2 separate regions of the Homo sapiens genome follow, and region 2 is linked to region 1. The links come from fine-mapping of genetic effects on gene expression. Tissue or cell type: whole blood. Region 1 holds a variant in brackets; the other region holds the start of a gene. All regions are shown on one strand. Distances are from middle to middle.

What was found. PIP is the estimated chance that this variant, and not a neighbour inherited with it, causes the effect.
Region 2: it holds the start of ZCWPW1, and the variant in region 1 is fine-mapped to the expression of ZCWPW1 in whole blood (TOPMed, PIP above 0.99).

Annotation. Positions count from the first base shown.
Region 1 is chr7:100,707,694-100,715,693 of GRCh38, forward strand. No RefSeq gene overlaps it. Among named protein-coding and RNA genes, the nearest start is that of POP7, 5.6 kb to the left of the region's middle. The variant C/T (reference allele first, on the strand shown) is at 3,855.
Region 2 is chr7:100,424,489-100,434,457 of GRCh38, forward strand. ZCWPW1 (zinc finger CW-type and PWWP domain containing 1) reads right to left here and starts at 4,215. Exons shown (of 18, transcript NM_001386010.1): 1 at 4,080-4,215; 2 at 542-648. It overlaps MEPCE (methylphosphate capping enzyme), which reads left to right and starts at 5,343. Exons shown (of 4, transcript NM_019606.6): 1 at 5,343-7,201; 2 at 8,431-8,649; 3 at 8,775-8,901; 4 at 9,014-9,630. The coding sequence starts at 5,531. The coding sequence ends at 9,066. RefSeq lists silencers at 3,693-3,742, 5,563-6,032 and enhancers at 3,903-4,132, 5,153-5,292, 6,163-6,242.

The sequences.
Region 1 (8,000 bases):
GTTTTTTGAGACAGAGTCTCACTCTGTCACCCAGGCTGGAGTGCAGTGGTGCAATCTTGGCTCACTGCAAGCTCCACCTCCTGAGTTCACGCCATTCTCCTGCCTCAGCCTCCTGAGTAGCTGGGACTACAGGTGCCTGCCACCACACCCTGGCTAATTTTTTTGTATTTTTAGTAGAGACAGGGTTTCAGCGTGTTAGCAGGGATGTTCTCGATCTCCTGACCTTGTGATCCACCCATCTCGGCCTCCCAAAGTGCTAGGATTACAGGCGTGAGCCACCGTGCCCAGCCCCAATGTTTGTTTTAAAGATTTTCGTCTTCTAGTTGGGTGCAGTGGCTCCAGCCTGTAGTCTGAGCTACTGGCGGAGGCTGAGGCGGAAAGAGTGCTTGAGCCTGGGAGTTTGAAGGTGCAGTGAGTTATGATCATGCCACCTGCACTCCAATCTAGATGACATACTGAGACCTAGTCTATGCAAAAAAACCACTTTTTTTTTTTTTCTGAGATGAAGTCTTGCTCTGTCACCCAGGCTGGAGTACAGTGGTGCCATCTTGGCTCACTGCAACGTTCGGCTCCTGGGTTCAAGTGATTCTCCTGCTTCATCCTCCCCAGTAGCTGGAATTACAGGTGAGTGCCACCACGCCCAGCTAATTATTTTTGTATTTTTTTAGTGGAAACACCATGTTGGCCAGGCTGTTCTCGAACTCCTGACCTCAAGTGATCTGCCCGCCTTGGCCTCCCAAATGCAAAAAATTTTTGAAAACTAGATGGGTGTAGTGGTTTGCACCTATAATCCCAGCTACCTCGTTAGCTGAGGCAGGAGGATCGCTTGAGCCCAGGAGTTCAAGGCTGCAGTGAGCTGTGATCACCGCACTACACTCCTCCAGCCTTGCTGACACAGCAAGACCGTATCTCAAAAAAAAAAAAAAAAAAAAAAAGGAAGCAAACTAAGACTTCAGGACCTTCTTAGTGTCAGGCTCCATGGTAGGGACTGACAAGTGGCTTCATTTAATTCCTGGACCTGCAGGGCCTACCTAGATGATACCCGGGCTTTCAGGTGCAGAGCCCTTCAGACCCTTTTTTTTTTTTTTTTTTTTTTTTGAGACAGCTTCACTCTGTCATCCAGGCTGGAGTGCAGTGGTGCGATCTCAGCTCACTGCAACCTCTGCCTCCTGGGTTCAAGGGATTCTTCTGCCTCAGCCTCCTGAGTAGCCGGGACTATAGGCATCCATCACCATGCCCTGCAATTTTTTGTATTTTTAGTAGAGAAGGGGTTTCACCATGTCAGCCAGGCTGGTCTCAAACTTCTGACCTGAAGCGTTCTGCCTGCCTTGGCCACCCAAAGTGCTGGGATTACAGGCATGAGCCACTGCGCCCGGCCTTCAGACCCTTCTCACTGGGCTGCTCCAGTGGCGAAGGAACCCCTCACTCCAAATAATTACTGGGCACACAGGTAATACTTTCTGTTTGGATATTTGTGGGATGACCTGATTTTTCATATTTATCAAACTAAAGTCAACTAAAGCAATGTTTATCAAAGCGGGTTGTGACCCATTTGTGGGTCACAGCTTCTTAAAAAAAGAAAAAGCCAGGCGCGGTGGCTCACGCCTGTAATCCCAGCACTTTGGGAGGCTGAGGCGGGCAGATCACGAGGTCCAGAGATCAAGACCATCCTGGCTAACATGGTGAAACCCTGTCTCTACTAAAAATACAAAAAATTAGCCAGGCGTGGTGGCACATGCCTGTAGTTCCAGCTACTCTAGAGGCTGAGGCAGGAGAATCGCTTGAACCAGGGAGGCGGAGGTTGCAGAGAGCCGAGATTGTGCCACTGCACTCCAGCCTGGGCGACAGAGCGAGTCCGTCTCAAAAAACAAAAACAACAACAAAAAAAATAAGGCTGGGTGTGGTGGCTCACGCCTATAATCCCAGCACTTTGGGAGGCCGAGGCAGGTCAGTCTCTTGAGCGCAGGAGTTCGAGACCAGCCTAGGCAACATGGCGAAATCCCATCTCTACAAAAAATATAAAAAGTTATCTGGGCATGGTGGCACAAAACTGTGGTCCCAGCTACTTGGGAGGCTGAGGTGGGAGGATGACCTGAGCCCAGGAGGGGGAGGTTGCAGTGAGCTGAGATCACGCCAGTGCACTCCAGCCTGGGCGACAGAGCAAGACCTTGTCTAAAAAAAGAAAAGAAAAAGAAAAAAGAACCCAAGTTTTAAAAAAAGTGCAACTTAAATGGTGGTGTTTTTATTGCAGATGTTTTTGTTTTTTTTGAGGCAGAGTCTCTATCTCCTAGGCTGGAGTTCAGTAGCACAATCTTGGCTCACTGCAACCTCTGCCTCCCAGGTTCAAGCGATTCTCCTGTCTCAGCCTCCTGAGTAGCTGGAATTATAGGCGTGTGCCACCACGCCTGGCTAATTTTTGTATTTTTAGTAGAGATGGGGTTTCGCCATGTTGTCCAGGCTGATTTCAAACTCCTGACCTCAGGTGATCCACCCACCTCAGCCTCCCAAAATGCCGGGATTACAGGTGTGAGCCACTAGGCCTGGCCAGCAAATTTTTCAGTTAGGCATGTGTGTATATATATATATATATATATATGTACTATAATAGGATGTACATTGTGTTTTTTACCGTTTGAGGTCATAAGAGTTTAAGAGCCTCTGATTTACAGGTTAGGAACAGAATTTCACTCTAATTCAAGGAAGGTAGTTTGGTTTGGAGGTCTGAAGATCAGTCTTCTAATTCATCAAAATCCCTTCCTCTGGCATCTGCGTATGAAATGGTCCCTATGTTCAAGGAGCTCGCCATCTAATTGGGAAGGTGGACACATAATTTTTTGTGAATGAGTAAGATGTGTGAGACATAAGAGTAGCAATGATAAGGAAATGTGGAGATGGAAAGGGCTAATAACTTCCTGGTGGGACCCAAAATGGTTTCACTCACCTTTGATCTGGGTGTTGAAGGATGTATAGGAGTTTGCCAGGCAGAAAAGAAGGGAGATGGCATATTTGGCAGAGAGATCACAGTGGGGCGGGGAGATGGGTGGATTTGGCTGGGAATGGTGGCCATGCCTGTAATCCCAGCACTTTGGAAGGCCGAAGAGAGAAAATTGCTAGAGCTCAGGAGTTTGAGACCAGCCTGGGCAATAGAGTAAGACTTTGTCTCTATCAAAAATTTAAAAATTAACTGGGCTTGGCGGTGTGCACCTGTGGTCCAGCTACTCAGGAGGCTGAGGTGGGAGGATTGCTTGAGCCCAAGAGGTTGAGGCTGCAGTAAGCCGTGACTGAGGGCTTGTGAAACAGCAAGAACCTGTCTCAAAAAACAGTGGGCAGGGAGGGGATTAATGAATAGGCAGCTACGTTCTGGGACTGGAGGGACTCGAGGTGGCTAGAAAGCAAGAGGTACTGGGAGACAAGGCTGCAGACATTTCTTTTTTTTTTTTTTTTTTTTGAGACAGAGTCTCTATCGCCAGGCTGGAGTGCAGTGGCGTGATCTTCGCTCACTGCAACCTCCGACTCCCTGGTTCAAGCGATTCTCCTGCCTCAGCCTCCCAAGTAGCTGAGTAGCTGGGATTACAGGTGCGCACCACCACACCCAGCTAATTTTTGTATTTTTAGTAAAGACGGGGTTTCACCATGTTGGCCAGGATGGTCTCGATCTCCTGACCTCGTGATCTGCCCGCCTACGGCCTCCCAAAGTGCTGGGATAACAGGCGTGAGCCACCGTACCTGGCTGGCTGCGGACATTTCTATCAGGCCACATCCTTTCCATCAGCCTGACTGCAAGGCTTCCTTGCCCGGGAGCCCCCCAGTAGCCGAGCGGGGAGCCGGCAGGAAGCTGGATGGAGCTGTGTCTC[C/T]CTGCACGTATGTGCTCCGGGCCTGAGCCCAGCAGAGGTGGTGGCAGGCAGCCTTTCCCATCTGGTTTGTTTTGGCAGTTCCCTCCTGCAGCCTATTTGTTTGTTGTTTCTACTCCATGTTTTCTCACTGCTTGCCAGTGGGGCTTCCCTCAGTGGCAGTTCTGCAGAAACAGACCTCCACATTGCCACTGAAGGAAGAGTGGGGCCTGGGGCTCACTCTTTTGTGTGTGGGGGGGCGTGAACCAGGCTCCTGCATCTACTAGAGTCCATGCAGGGCAGGTGGGGCAGGGAACCCTGCCTGCAGGCCCGACCGTAGGGAGGCTAGCTCCAGCCTCTGTTCTCCTCCCTCTACTGGCTCTCCAAAGTGACTTCCATCAAAGCTTGGGAGGCCAGAAACAGTGAGCCACGTCTCTTTGTAATCCCAGCACTTTGGGAGGCCCAGGCAGGCAGATCACCTGAGGTTAGGAGTTCAAGACCAGCCTGGCCAACATGGTGAAACCCCGTCTCTACTGAAAATACAAAATTAGCTGGGCGTGGTGGCAGGCGCCTGTAATCCCAGCTACTCAGGAGGCTGAGGCAGGAGAACTGCTTGAACCCGGGAGGTGGAGGTTGCAGTGCACCAAGATTGTGCCATTGCACTCCAGCCTGGGTGACAGAGGGAGACTCAGTCTCAAAAAGAAAAAAGCTTGAAAAACGGGAGAGGGGTGAGGAGATGGAGGCAGAAGGTGTGTGCAAATGCAATGCCCTGCCCTCCTTTTTACATTTTATTTATTTATTTATTTATTTTAGAGACAGGGTCTCACTCTGTAGCCTAGGCTGGAGTGCAATGGTACAATCATAGCTCACTGCAACCTCAAACTTCTAGGCTCAAGCAATCCTGCCTCAGCCTCCCAGGTAGTTAGGACTACAGGCAAAAAAAAAAAAAAAAGAGCTACTATTGTTTTCTTTGTTTGTTTATCTGTTTGTTTTGAGACGGAGTTGTGCTCTTGTTGCCCAGGCTGGAATGCAATGGCGTGATCTCAGCTCACTGCAACCTCCGCCTCCTGGATTCAACTGATTCTCCTGCCTCAGCCTCCTGAGTAGCTGGGATTACAGGCACGTTCCACCAAGCCCGGCTACTTTTTGTATTTTTAGTAGAGGCAGGGTTTCTCCGTGTTTGCCAGGCTGGTCTCGAACTCGTGACCTCAGGTGATCCGCCTGCCTCAGCCTCCCAAAGTTCTGAGATTACAGGCGTGAGCCACTGCGCCCGGCCAAGAGCTAGTATTGTTTAGTATGAAGCCATTTTGCTAAGAAATGGTTTTAGGCTTCTTAATAGGAATGGGGAGAAGTGAAGGAAGGCAATTTTGTGTGCGTTTAATTCTCAAGTCTGAGTTATTAGTAGAAACTAACAACTGAGCCAGACTCAGTTGTGGCTCGCATAGCAGGGAAGGGGACGGGACCTTGAAATATTAAGTGGTTTGATCAGGCTGATGATCCTGCTAGAGAAGCCCAGCACTTTGTCCCAGGTGAGTTTCTGGTGCTTGGTCAGGAGTTGAGGGAAAAATGGTGTTTCACAAACCCTCAAACCACTAGAGAGGTTGGACGAGAACGTGTCAATTGTAGTTCCTTAGGAAACAGATGTCCAATTGCACAGAGATTTGGGATGAGGCAAAGGTCATCCTACCAGAAGGAAGCCTGTGAAAATGGCCACTTAAGGTCCCAAGACCCTAATGACATTATGGGTGTTTTTCAGTTTATGTGTTTGAGTTTAGCGCTGTTTTCTAATTTTGGTCACGTATTGTTTTTGTAATGAGCAAAAGTTCATCATAAAAGTTGCTTTTTTTTTTTTTTTGAGACAGAGTCTGGCTCTGTCGCCCAGGCTGGAGTCCAGTGGCACAATCTTGGCTCACCGCAACCTCCGCCTCTCGAGTTCAAGTGATTCTTCTGCCTCAGCCTCCTGAGTAGCTGGGACTATAGGTGTGCGCCACCATGCCCAGCTAATTTTTGTATTTTTAGCAGAGATGGGGTTTCACCATATTGGCCAGGCTGGTCTTGAACTCCTGACCTCGTGATCCGCCCGTCTCAGCCCCCAAAGTGCTGGGATTACAGGCGTGAGCCACCGTGCCCGGCCTAAGTGAGCTCTTCTGCTCGTGTCTTAGTTCATCAACCAGCAAATAATTTTTCCCTTTTCAGGGAAGTATATTTGTCTAATAGCAAACAAGACTAATAGACTGAGTTGGAAGGAATCTAGCAGGTCCTGTGAAGGCGAAAGTCCACCCTCTGTTTGCATTCTTCAAGTGACAAGACGGTTGCCTTTTCTTAAGGGAGCAGAGGCTTGTTATAGAGGAGACAGCAAGCCATTCTCCTCTGCATCATCCATGTATCCACTGACCCATTCATTCATCAGATATTTATTAGTTAGTGGAACGGGCAATAAAATAACTTCTTGAGGTATCTCATCAGTTTTATTTTTACTTATTTAGAGATGGGTCTTGCTCAGTTCCCCAGGCTCGAGTGCAGTGGCATGATCATAGCTCACTGCAACCTCGACCTCCTAGGTTCAAATGATCATCCTTCCTCAGCCTCCCAAGTAGCTGTGACACCAGGCATGTGCCGCCATGCCTGGCTAACTTCTTTATTTTTTATATAAAAAATATAACTCTATAAAAAATAACTTCTTTATTTTTTATAGAGCCAGGGTCTCACTGTGTTGCCCCGGCTGGTCTTGAACTCCTGGCCTCAAATGATCACCTTAGCTTTCCAAAGTGCTGAAATTATAGGTGTGAGCCACCTCACCCGGCCCCTCATCAGTTTGATAACTAACTCCTTGATCACCTTACTTAGAGAACAAAGGATCAGTCAGGAATAGGCTTCATAAAACTTTGGTAGGCCAGGTGCGGTAAAGGATTTTCCTTTGAGGACTTTGGCAAAGGATTTTCCTTTGGTTCTCCAGCAGGAATCCCTTCTTCAGCATCTTTTTTTTTTTTTAAGAAAGGGTGTTGTTCTTTCGCCCAGGCTGGAGTGCAGTGGTGCGATCATAGCTAACTGCAGCTTCCAACTCCTGGGCTCAAGCAATCCTCCAACCTCAGCCTCCCGAGTAGCTGGGACTACAGGCATGTGCCAGCATGCCTAACAAATTTTCTGTAGAGACAGGGTCTCCCTATGTTGCCCAGACTGGTCTCAAACTCCTGGGCTCAAGGGATCCTCCCTCCTTAGCCTCCTAAAGTGCTGGGATTCCAGGCGTGAGCTACCGTGCCTGGCCCTCCAGCATTCTTGCTTCCTTCACAGTTCCCCAAAGGCCACCCAACAAGGTCCCCAGCCACCTCCCCTCCCAGCACAGAAGGTCTTCTGGGCCTCTGGCTGAACTCGAGCTGAGCTGAGAAGCCACTGCTTGGAAATGAGGAGGGAAAGAGAAGCCAGGAGGCCCCCCTTCCCAAGTCCGACTCCAGGCAGCTGGGGCTCCGTGCTGCCTGGGGGTCTGGGACAGCTCGGGGGGCTGTAAATTTGCTTCTGCTTGGATTTCCAATCTGAATCCACTGCCAGGAGGAATCCGTGGAGCAGAGCCTGCCTCCACACCCGCCATCCTCCTGTCACAACTGGCCCTTTTCAAACCCTGCCTCAGTGGCTGCCTGCTCAGGAAGTGCATGGAAGCTTCACACGCCCCAGGATCCCAGGGAGCTGGGTTGACCGGGGGATGGCTCAGTGCCCCCTCTAGGTTGGGTTCTTCTCTGAGCATGTAGTGGAGGGACCACATAATGCAATCCACACTTGGGTGGTTACCACAGAAAAGGGACATGCTGGACGCTTGGTAGACAGAAAAATGCATCAGAACTTCCATACGCAGCCCTTCGCTCTCTTCGATGACTAGGGCACCTGCACTACGTGACTCCAGACGGTACCATTCCCTTCAGAGTCTCTATGGATGCCCCTGGGAGTTGGGCAGTGCTCATCTTTGACGGCTGTCCATGGCGGTCCTGCCAGTGAGATGCCTAAGACATGTACATAAATGACGGCAGTGCCAGGGAAGGAGACGATTTCCTGCTGGGAGATCAAGAAAGGCTTCATGGAGGAGGCGATGCACAGATTTGGGCTTTAAAGAAAACGAGGAGATGGTGTGGGAGGGTAATCCAGGATGAGCCAAGGGCAGGAAGGCACAAACCATCTCCT
Region 2 (9,969 bases), 280 kb before region 1:
GTCTTGCTCTATCACCAGGCTGGAGTGCAGTGGTGCAATCTTGGCTCACTGAAACCTCTGCCTCCCAGGTTCAAGCGATTCTCCTGCCTCAGCCTCCCGAGTAGCTGGGATTACAGGAGCGCACCACCACCCCCAGCTAATTTTCGTATTTTTAGTAGAGACGGGGTTTCACCATGTTGGCCAGGATAGTCTCAATCTCCTGACCTCATGATCCACCTGCCTCAGCCTCCCAAAGTGCTGGGATTACAGGCATGACGCACCGTGCCCGGCCGAAATTCTTTAAGTAAAATTAAAAGAGAGTATTTCGACCAACCTAAAAATGCAAACATTTCCAGTATTTAGGTTCAAATCCTTATCTAAACCTGTAAAGATCTTCCTAGGCCAAAGTATATTTCTGGAGCCCCAACCAACTAGATAGAATTGTGGTTCACTGTTGTTGAGTTAATAAGATGTAATAAATCTATAAACAGTGATGTATAGTATCACATAATATGTATAATCTGTGCATGTGATAACACTGCTTTCAAACAAAAGCTCTAACCTGATCAGTAAAGAAGGGAAGGCCAGGAAGTCACTTTCTGATAACTCAGGTTGCCCCTCCTCTGTTTCAGGTGAATTAACTTCTTTCACAATAACAAATACTGAAAGCTGGTTCAGAGAGAGAGAGAAAAAAATATAGACAGTTAATAAAAATATAAAATACCACTAACTTTCTTCTGTACAGCTACTAAATGACTAGGGGCTGTAGACCCAGGAATAAAATTTGAGGTTTTAATTTCTCTTTTCTTACCTTAGATGAAGAGGGGCAGGGTGTGGGGTTGCGGGGAAGGCTTTAATAAGAGGGGCAAAGGCTTTAAATAAGAATGTAAAAGAACCAGTACAGTTCCAGAAACCATATTCTCATCACTCAACATATGAAATGAGGGTAAATAAGGAGGGAAAAAGAACTTAGAAATAATAAAGGGAACCAAGGGAAGGTGAATGAGGATCTCAAAAAAGAGTTTTATTTCACTTAGAACATTAAAAACCATCACATAAATTTTGAGATGAAATCACCTAACTCAGCAGTTCTAAGTGTAGTCCCAAAATCCTAGGGGGCCCTCTCCCTTTTCCAACTACCTATCTGTATTAAGCTGGATTTTCTCATGTACTTTTACAAAAACAAGATATCCCAACAGACTGAATGCAGAAACAGACGAGAACCCAGTTGTTTTCTATTAAGCCAGACATGAAAGAGATTTGCAAAAATGTAAACCACCACCATTCTTCATGCTAAATTTTCTTTTGTTTAGGAGAATGTATTTTTCATAAAAACCTGTTTAGGTTAACATATTTATTATTGTTATTTCTAATCAAACTTTAAATGTTTCTGAATTTTAATTTCTAAAATGTTAGTATCAACAGATACAAACCAAATAAAAGCTCTTTGGAGTCCTCCATAAATTTTAAGGGTATAAAAGGGTTCTCAAACCAAAAAGTTTGAGAACTGACCTAGTGAAATAACTTGTCAGTATTGCCAATACTTTTTTAAATAAACAGTAATTCTCTCTCCCCACACACCATTCAGAATGTGTTCCCAAATTTCCTCTTCCTAACCATCCAATCATTCCCTTCCTTATATTGTTCCTCAAATCCTTGGTCTAAGAGAAGTAAACCCTTTAGCATTGTCCTCTAACCCAGACTCCCTGAGCCTCAAAAAAGCGGTATTTAAAGAGTATATTTCAGCCGGGCGCAGTGGCTCACGCCTGTAATTCCAGCACTTTGGGAGGCCAAGGCAGGTGGATCACCTAAGGTCAGGAGTTCAAGACCAGCCTGACCAACATGGTGAAGCCCCATCTCTACTAAAATACAAAAATTAGCCAGCGTGGTGGCAGGCGCCTGTAATCTCAGCTACTTGGGAGGCTGAAGCAGGAGAATCACTTGAACCCAGGAGGTGGAGGTTGCAGTGAGCCAAGACCGTGCTACTGCACTCCAGCCTGGGCAAAATGAGTGAGACTCTGTCTCAAAAAAAAAAAAAAAAAAAAGTATATTTCAAATCTTTTTTAAGCCAGAGTCTGATCTTCCTTTTTGCATTAATAACAGTATGTGGACTCCTGCTTATTTTCATGCCTCAATTAACTAATAGCAGTTTCCTCCCTCCCTCTCACTTTTTCTCCCTCCCTCTCTCCCTCCTTTACTCCTTCCTCCCTCTTCCCTCCCTCTCTTCCTTCTTCCCTCCTTCTGTCTCCCTTTGTCCCTCCATCCCTTCCTCCCCCTCCTTCTCTCCCTCCCCCTCCTTCCTTGCCCTCCTCCCTTTCTCTCTCCCTCTTCCCTCCCTCCTCCCCCTCTCCTTTCTCCCCCTCCTCCTTCCCTTTCCTCCCCCTCTCCTTCCTACCCCCCTCCCCCTCCTCCCTTCCCTGCTTCCCCTCCTTCTTCCTTCCTCTCCCTCCCTCCCTTCTCCCTCCCCCTCCTCCCTCCCCTTTCCTCCCCCTCCTCCCTTCCCCCTTTCCTCCCTCCCTCTCTTCTCCTTCCCTCCCTCCCGTTTCCTCCCCCTCCTCCCTCCCTCCCCTTTCCTCCCTCCCTCTCTTATCCTTCCCTCCCTCTCTCTTCTCCTTCCCTCCCTCTCTCTCTTCTCCTTCCCTCCCTCCCCTTTCCTCCCCCTCCTCCCTCCCTCCTCCCTTTCCTCCCTCCCTCTCTCTCTTCTCCTTCCCTCCCTCCTTCCTTCCTCCCCCTTCCCTCCCTCCTTCCTTCCTCCCCCTTCCCTCCCTCCTTCCTTCCTCCCCCTTCCCTCCCTTGCTTTCTTCCTTCGTGTTTGTGCACAAGCTCAGCAAGCCCGATTTAAAACTTTTAACAAGAAAGAAGAGGCGGGTGGATCACCTTAAGTCAGGAGTTCGGGACCAGCCTGGCCAATACGGTGAAACCCCGTCTCTACTAAAAATACAAAAAAATCAGCCGAGCACGGTGGCGCGTGCCTGTAATCCCAGCATTTTGGGAGGCCAAGGTGGGCGGATCACCTAAGGTCAGGAGTTCGAGACCAGCCTGGCCAACATGGAGAAACCCCGTCTCTACTAAAAATACAAAATTAGCCGGGCACAGTGGCGGGCGCCTGTAGTCCCAGCTCCTCGGGAGGCTGAGGCAGGGGAATCGCTTGAACCCAGGAGGTGGGGGTTGCAGTGAGCCGAGACTGCGCCACTGCACTCCAGCCTGGGCGACAGAGCGAGACAGTCTTTAAAAAAAAAAAAAAAAAAGCCCCAATTCCAAATCCACCTGCAATCCAAAGGGAAGAAGTTTTGCAGAGAAGTTCTTCCCATTTGTGGGGCGCTCCCATTTTTCCTCTCTTCCCTCACCCCTTATTCTCTCTCAGGGATAGCGGTTCAAGTCGGTGTCCCTGAGCCACACGTCCCCCTCTCTCTTCCCCGTCCCCTCCCTTCCTTCCTCCCACCATGAGGGAATCTCCCCTCCACCCCCACTCCTGCCGAGGCCCCGTGATCCTTATTCTCACTCATATCGTTGGTGCCCGCCAGGAGACTGGGCTATTTTTTTTTTGTCTGTTTCTTGGGGGCGACAGATTCTGAGGAAAAAGGGCGAAGGGCTGGTTGTCGCCCTGAGAAAGTTTCTCCTCAGGCAACGGGTGCCAGGACTGGCAGCGCCTAGCACCTTCACCTACAACCAGAAACTAGCTGGCTACCTTCAGGAGCAAGGAGGACCTAAAGGCGATGGGCGGAACCAGCTGCCGCAGCGACTCCGCAAGCCCCTCACACCTCAACCCAGGTTTCCCGCCACCAAGAAAAGGCACGAGGACGCCCTGAGCACTAGCTCCACCCGAGGGCGGTGCGCTCGCGGGGCCGAGGCGCATGCGCAACTGGAAACAGCGTCTGCGTTTCCGCAGCTGAGGTAAATCCGCCATCTTCCACCCGAACGTCCCGGGAAAACTACAAATCCCAGAATCCTCTTTGGTGTCACATATTTTTAGGCGGCGGCCGCGGCGCCTGATTGTTCCTGAAGCACATCTACTAACTTTTCTGTTTCAGACTGCCTTTTCCTCCCTCTTTCCGTTCTCTAATTCCTCCTCTTCCTGCTGGTCTCCTTCACGCCCTCACCTTAGGATTTTGAGACTCTCCTGGACCCCACTGTCACCCCTGCCGCCCTGTCCTCGGCCCAGCACTCCGCTGGCAGGGAGACCGGGCGGCGCATCTCCCCGGGAAAACGGCGTAGACTCGCTTCTTCCTCATTGGCAGAAGCTGGGGGGGCCCAGCGCGGACCGAACCCCCGTCCCCGCCCACACTCGCTGGTATATAAGTCGGCGTGGCGCCGCGGTGGGTGTTGAGAGGCCCGCGAACTGACGGGCCAGTGAGCGGGCGTCGGGAGTGGGCGGATGCGTTGGGGTTCGGGTCGTGGGTGTTGAGGCGGAGAGGAAGGCGTGGTGTGGCGTCTCCAGGTGATTGCGATTGGGGGAAGGTAGAGGAGCCAGAGAACGACTCAGCCGTTTCGGGGGAAGAGGAAGTTGGACAACATCGGCTGTTTTAGTGCTTTTTATTTTTCCCCAATTCAGCAGAGAATATTTTCAAGGGGGGTGAGTTATAATGACCTATCGCGTTTTACTGAGCCCAGTTCCACTCCCGCCCTTCCTTGGCTTTGTAGGGTCTCCCCTCCGCTCCCTCGGAAGCGCTTCTAAGAAGGTGGGCAGAGGGGGGGAGGTTTGCTACCAACAGCTCATGAATAATTCATGAGCCCCGCCCTTCGTCAGGAAGCCCCGCCCCTCCGGATCGCGCTGACGCACGCTGCGTTTACCAAACTTAAGGAAGCGACGTCACAGGCCCAACCCCTAAGACGGGGGGCGGGGCGCCAGTTTCAGCACGTGCTGCCTCTACCCGCGCAAGCCCAAAAGGGTGTGCGCAGGCGCTGCCCACTAGGGGGGAGGAAGGAGGCGGGGTGGGGAGGTTGTTGGATTTAGAGCCGGGCGGAGACCGCTGAGACTCATTCCTCAGGAACAAGGGTCGGGTGTCAAGGAGACCTTTTCACACCAGCTCCCGTCCCCCGCCTACGGTGGGTGGGATCGCGCGGCAGAGACAAAGGAGATCAGTAGGGCCGGACATAGCTGCGCAGGGAAGTAGGGTGTCAGTTTGGGGTGGTGGGCTTTTGCGGGGGCTGTGGGGGGGTTATATTTAAACTCCCAGAGCCGTTAAGTTGGTTCGTAGTCTGATGCGCGCGCAACCAGGGTGGTGGCGGAGTGCGCATGCGTGGTTCCCGGGCGAAGGGAACGCGCGCTCACCGTGCGCGCTCGCGGCCGGGTGGTAGTGGCGGAGGAGAAAGGGGTCGGCGCACGCGCGGTTGAGTCCTCGAGTAGTTCGGGTCTCGCGGGCCTCTTGTTTTGGTCTCGCGGGCTAGTAGGGCGCACTTGGCGGGGAGGCGCTTGGGCGCGAGACTAGGCGTGAAGAGCAGAGCTGCGCGCGCACTCGGGAAAGGGGGGAAGGGAGCAGGGTCCAGGCAGGGGGGGTTAGGCCCCCTGATCCCCCTCGTTACCCCGACTGGCACGGAATAAGGGGAGGAAATGATCGAGATGGCGGCGGAGAAGGAGCCGTTTCTGGTGCCGGCCCCGCCGCCGCCGCTCAAAGATGAGTCGGGCGGAGGGGGCGGCCCCACGGTGCCACCGCACCAAGAGGCCGCCTCTGGGGAGCTCCGCGGCGGGACGGAGCGTGGTCCGGGTCGTTGCGCGCCATCTGCGGGGTCCCCAGCCGCTGCGGTCGGTCGGGAAAGCCCCGGGGCCGCGGCCACCTCCTCCAGTGGTCCCCAGGCGCAGCAGCACCGAGGGGGCGGCCCCCAGGCGCAGTCGCATGGGGAGGCCCGCCTGTCGGATCCCCCGGGGCGAGCCGCTCCCCCGGACGTGGGGGAGGAGCGCCGGGGAGGGGGCGGGACAGAGCTGGGTCCCCCTGCTCCTCCTCGACCCCGCAATGGCTATCAGCCCCACCGGCCACCTGGGGGGGGCGGGGGCAAGAGGAGAAATAGCTGTAATGTAGGGGGAGGCGGGGGAGGCTTCAAACATCCGGCCTTCAAGAGGCGCAGGCGGGTGAATTCGGACTGTGACTCTGTGTTACCCTCCAACTTCCTCCTGGGGGGCAATATCTTTGATCCCCTGAACCTGAATAGCCTCCTGGATGAGGAAGTGAGCCGCACTCTCAACGCGGAGACCCCTAAGTCATCCCCCCTTCCGGCCAAAGGGCGAGATCCGGTGGAGATCCTCATCCCCAAAGATATTACTGACCCGCTCAGTCTCAATACTTGCACTGATGAGGGCCATGTAGTTCTTGCTTCGCCACTCAAGACTGGTCGGAAGCGGCATAGACACCGGGGACAGCACCACCAGCAGCAGCAGGCAGCCGGAGGGAGTGAGAGTCACCCCGTGCCGCCCACAGCCCCTCTCACCCCCTTACTCCACGGGGAGGGCGCCTCACAGCAGCCGCGGCACAGGGGCCAGAACCGGGATGCCCCCCAACCCTATGAACTCAACACAGCCATCAACTGCAGGGATGAAGTGGTGTCTCCCCTTCCATCTGCTCTGCAGGGTCCCTCAGGCTCCCTATCAGCCCCTCCAGCTGCCTCAGTTATCTCTGCACCCCCATCTTCCTCCTCCCGACATCGCAAACGTCGCAGGACTTCCAGCAAGTCGGAGGCAGGGGCTAGGGGTGGAGGCCAGGGTTCCAAGGAAAAGGGCCGAGGGAGTTGGGGAGGCCGCCACCACCACCACCACCCACTGCCTGCAGCAGGCTTCAAAAAGCAACAGCGCAAGTTCCAGTATGGGAATTATTGCAAATACTATGGGTACCGCAATCCTTCCTGTGAGGATGGGCGCCTTCGGGTGTTGAAGCCTGAGTGGTTTCGGGGCCGGGACGTCCTAGATCTGGGCTGCAATGTGGGCCATCTGACCCTGAGCATTGCCTGCAAGTGGGGCCCGTCCCGCATGGTGGGCCTGGATATCGATTCCCGGCTCATCCATTCTGCCCGCCAAAACATCCGACACTACCTTTCCGAGGAGCTGCGTCTCCCACCCCAGACTTTGGAAGGGGACCCGGGGGCAGAGGGTGAGGAAGGGACCACCACCGTTCGAAAGAGGAGCTGCTTCCCAGCCTCGCTGACTGCCAGCCGGGGTCCCATCGCTGCCCCCCAAGTGCCCTTGGATGGAGCGGACACATCAGTCTTCCCCAACAATGTTGTCTTCGTCACGGTAAGAGGGTCCAGAGGCTCTTGGAATAGGGGCCAGGTGTGAAGATGAGATTAAATGGGAATGTAGCAGGGAAGGTTATGACCCAGATCCTCAAAAGAGGGGTCTGGGTTGGCAAGTGAGAGCCTCTGCTGGGCGTCTCTCCCCTCTTATAACCTGGAAAGGTGGGGTGTCTACCTTGGGGCATTGACCCTGGAGTCCTTTGTCATGACTGCAAGGATCTCCAAGATAGAGGAGGACTCTCTTTTTGCTCTGCTCCCGGCTTGGCCTATAATCCACACTGGTCCACCTTCCCTTCCCTTGAAGGCTGCTGCTCACTAGGGAATTTGATCCAGGTGGAACTTGGTCCTCAGATTTACTGAAGGAGCCTGAGAATGGGAGTCAGACATGGAATGTCTTCTAGGGAGGAGATTAGGGTAGCGACAGACTAATACTGGCGTTTCTGCCCTTTGATAGCCACCTTGCTCCTATCAGCGGCTTTTGTTTTCCTAGACAGTTTGTTGAAGCGTGTCAGGAACCCAAGTGGTTTGGCTGTAGATCCTCTCCACATTGACCCTAGATAGTGGGAGAGGGAAGAACCAGAAACTCCTCTGCAGAGAGGAGAGAGTCCTGTGCCCTGCAGAGTCCCCTGACTGCACACAGCTCCCCAGAGAACACTCCAGTTAGGCTGCCTACTGGGATCTTTGGCATTGTGTTGGGTTAAGCCTGAAGAATGGTCTTTTTAGAGGGTTGTGATGAGCTGAGCTTCTAGAAAAGGCTTCCTAAAGGATGTGGCTCTTCATTTCTCTCAGAGAAAGGAAAGAATAGGCCTGAAACTTTGCCAGCCCCAACTGCAGGGAAGGAACCACAGGTCTGCCTTTGAAACCTGGGTTAGTTACCCTTGCAGAACCTGCAGTCACTCCACTTAATGTCTGTGAGTGAGAATAAACACAGGATATGGTCCTGGGACCCTAGCTTTGGAAGACTTCATGGATAATTTGCACCATTTAAAATTACTCAGGCTCCGTCGACCTTTTTTGGCTTACCACCAGTAGGAAGAAGCAGAGGCAGGAAGGTGTAGAGGAGAAAACAAAACTCAAAGAGGGCAGGCACCTTTTGGGAGTTAGTCTGAGAAGAAAGTGGCCACGGGCTAAAGTGAGGCCGCGGGACTGTATCGGCCTCAGAGCAGGTTGCCTGGGAGCAGGGGTTCTTTGATTCCCTCAGTTGACCTCACTGCCGATTCTTGCCCTCAGGGTAATTATGTGCTGGATCGAGATGACCTGGTGGAGGCCCAAACACCTGAGTATGATGTGGTGCTCTGCCTCAGCCTCACCAAGTGGGTGCATCTGAACTGGGGAGACGAGGGCCTGAAGCGCATGTTTCGCCGGATCTACCGGCACCTACGCCCTGGGGGCATCCTGGTCCTAGAGCCCCAACCCTGGTCGTCGTATGGCAAGAGAAAGACTCTTACAGTGAGTTGGGTGTTGGGGGAATAGTCATTCCTTTGGTTGAGGCAAGAAAAGGCCCCGAGGTGGGCATCGCCCTTGGCCAGGGGAGGCGGCAGCGTGCTGAAGTGGTCCCTTGCCTCTCTCCTTAGGAAACGATCTACAAGAACTACTACCGAATCCAATTGAAGCCAGAGCAGTTCAGTTCCTACCTGACATCCCCAGACGTGGGCTTCTCCAGCTATGAGCTTGTGGCCACACCCCACAACACCTCTAAAGGTAAGGCTGGTTTATTTTGTCAGGGAGGCTGGTCCTGGCTGAAAGAGTGCAGACCCCCATGGGGATTCTTGAGGTGCTGCCAACCCCTTCTGATCACTCTCTCTCCCCTCAGGCTTCCAGCGTCCTGTGTACCTGTTCCACAAGGCCCGATCCCCCAGCCACTAAGTGGCCCCCTAAACAGAAAGTGTGAAGAGGCTGCCCTCGCTGCTCATAAGGACCTGGGGGAAGAGGAAAGTGTCCCAAGGTCTTTCCTTTCTGACTCCAAAAATAGTTTCCTTTCTTGGATCTGCAAAGAAAGCTTTTCTTCCGTCGCTGCCTCAGCCTCCTCCCTATGCCTCTGGCACCTGCGCAGCAAGGCTGGCTGTGCTGGAGTCACCATCATCTTCCTCTCCCCCAGCCTCCCAGGCTGGATGGCATGGACTGTTTGCTGACCTCTGTTCTCTTAGGGCATGGGAGGTGGGAGGATATCAAATTCTCTAGCCCTTTCCTCCTATTCTCCCAAGGAGAGAGATTCCCATTTCTCCTCGGCCATTGTACCTAGCTCTTGTCCCTAGCTGCATTTCAGTGGACCATGGATAGAGGGACTGAGGGTTAGACGGGGAAGACTGGCAGGGAGGCACGCAGGTACTGTGAAAATCCTTCCCTTTGCCCTCCCCCAGTGGGAGAGGGGGTTGGGTTTTCAATGTGAGAACAGCACAATAAACTTGATGTCTAGGGCAGTGGCCCCCACACCTGTCTCGGTACTGTCTAGCTGGTGGGGGATGGGTGGTGCCTCCCACCAGAACCTGTGCTGTTTATCTTCCATCTCAAGGAAGACACGTTTTTCAGTGGTTGAGCTGATTGTTGAACACTAGTCAAGTCCACACGCAAGTACACAGAAGCCTAGTCAGGAAAAGGTGTGTAATGCAAATTTTGGTGTGGAACTTGGAGTCTGCCTTCCCTCCCCAGAAAAACCCCGTAGACGTTTTGGGCAGAAGGCTAACTTTTTGGTTTTTGTTTTTCTGAGATGGAGATTTGTTCTGTCGTCAGGCTGGAGTACAGTGGTGTGATCTCGGCTTACCGCAATAT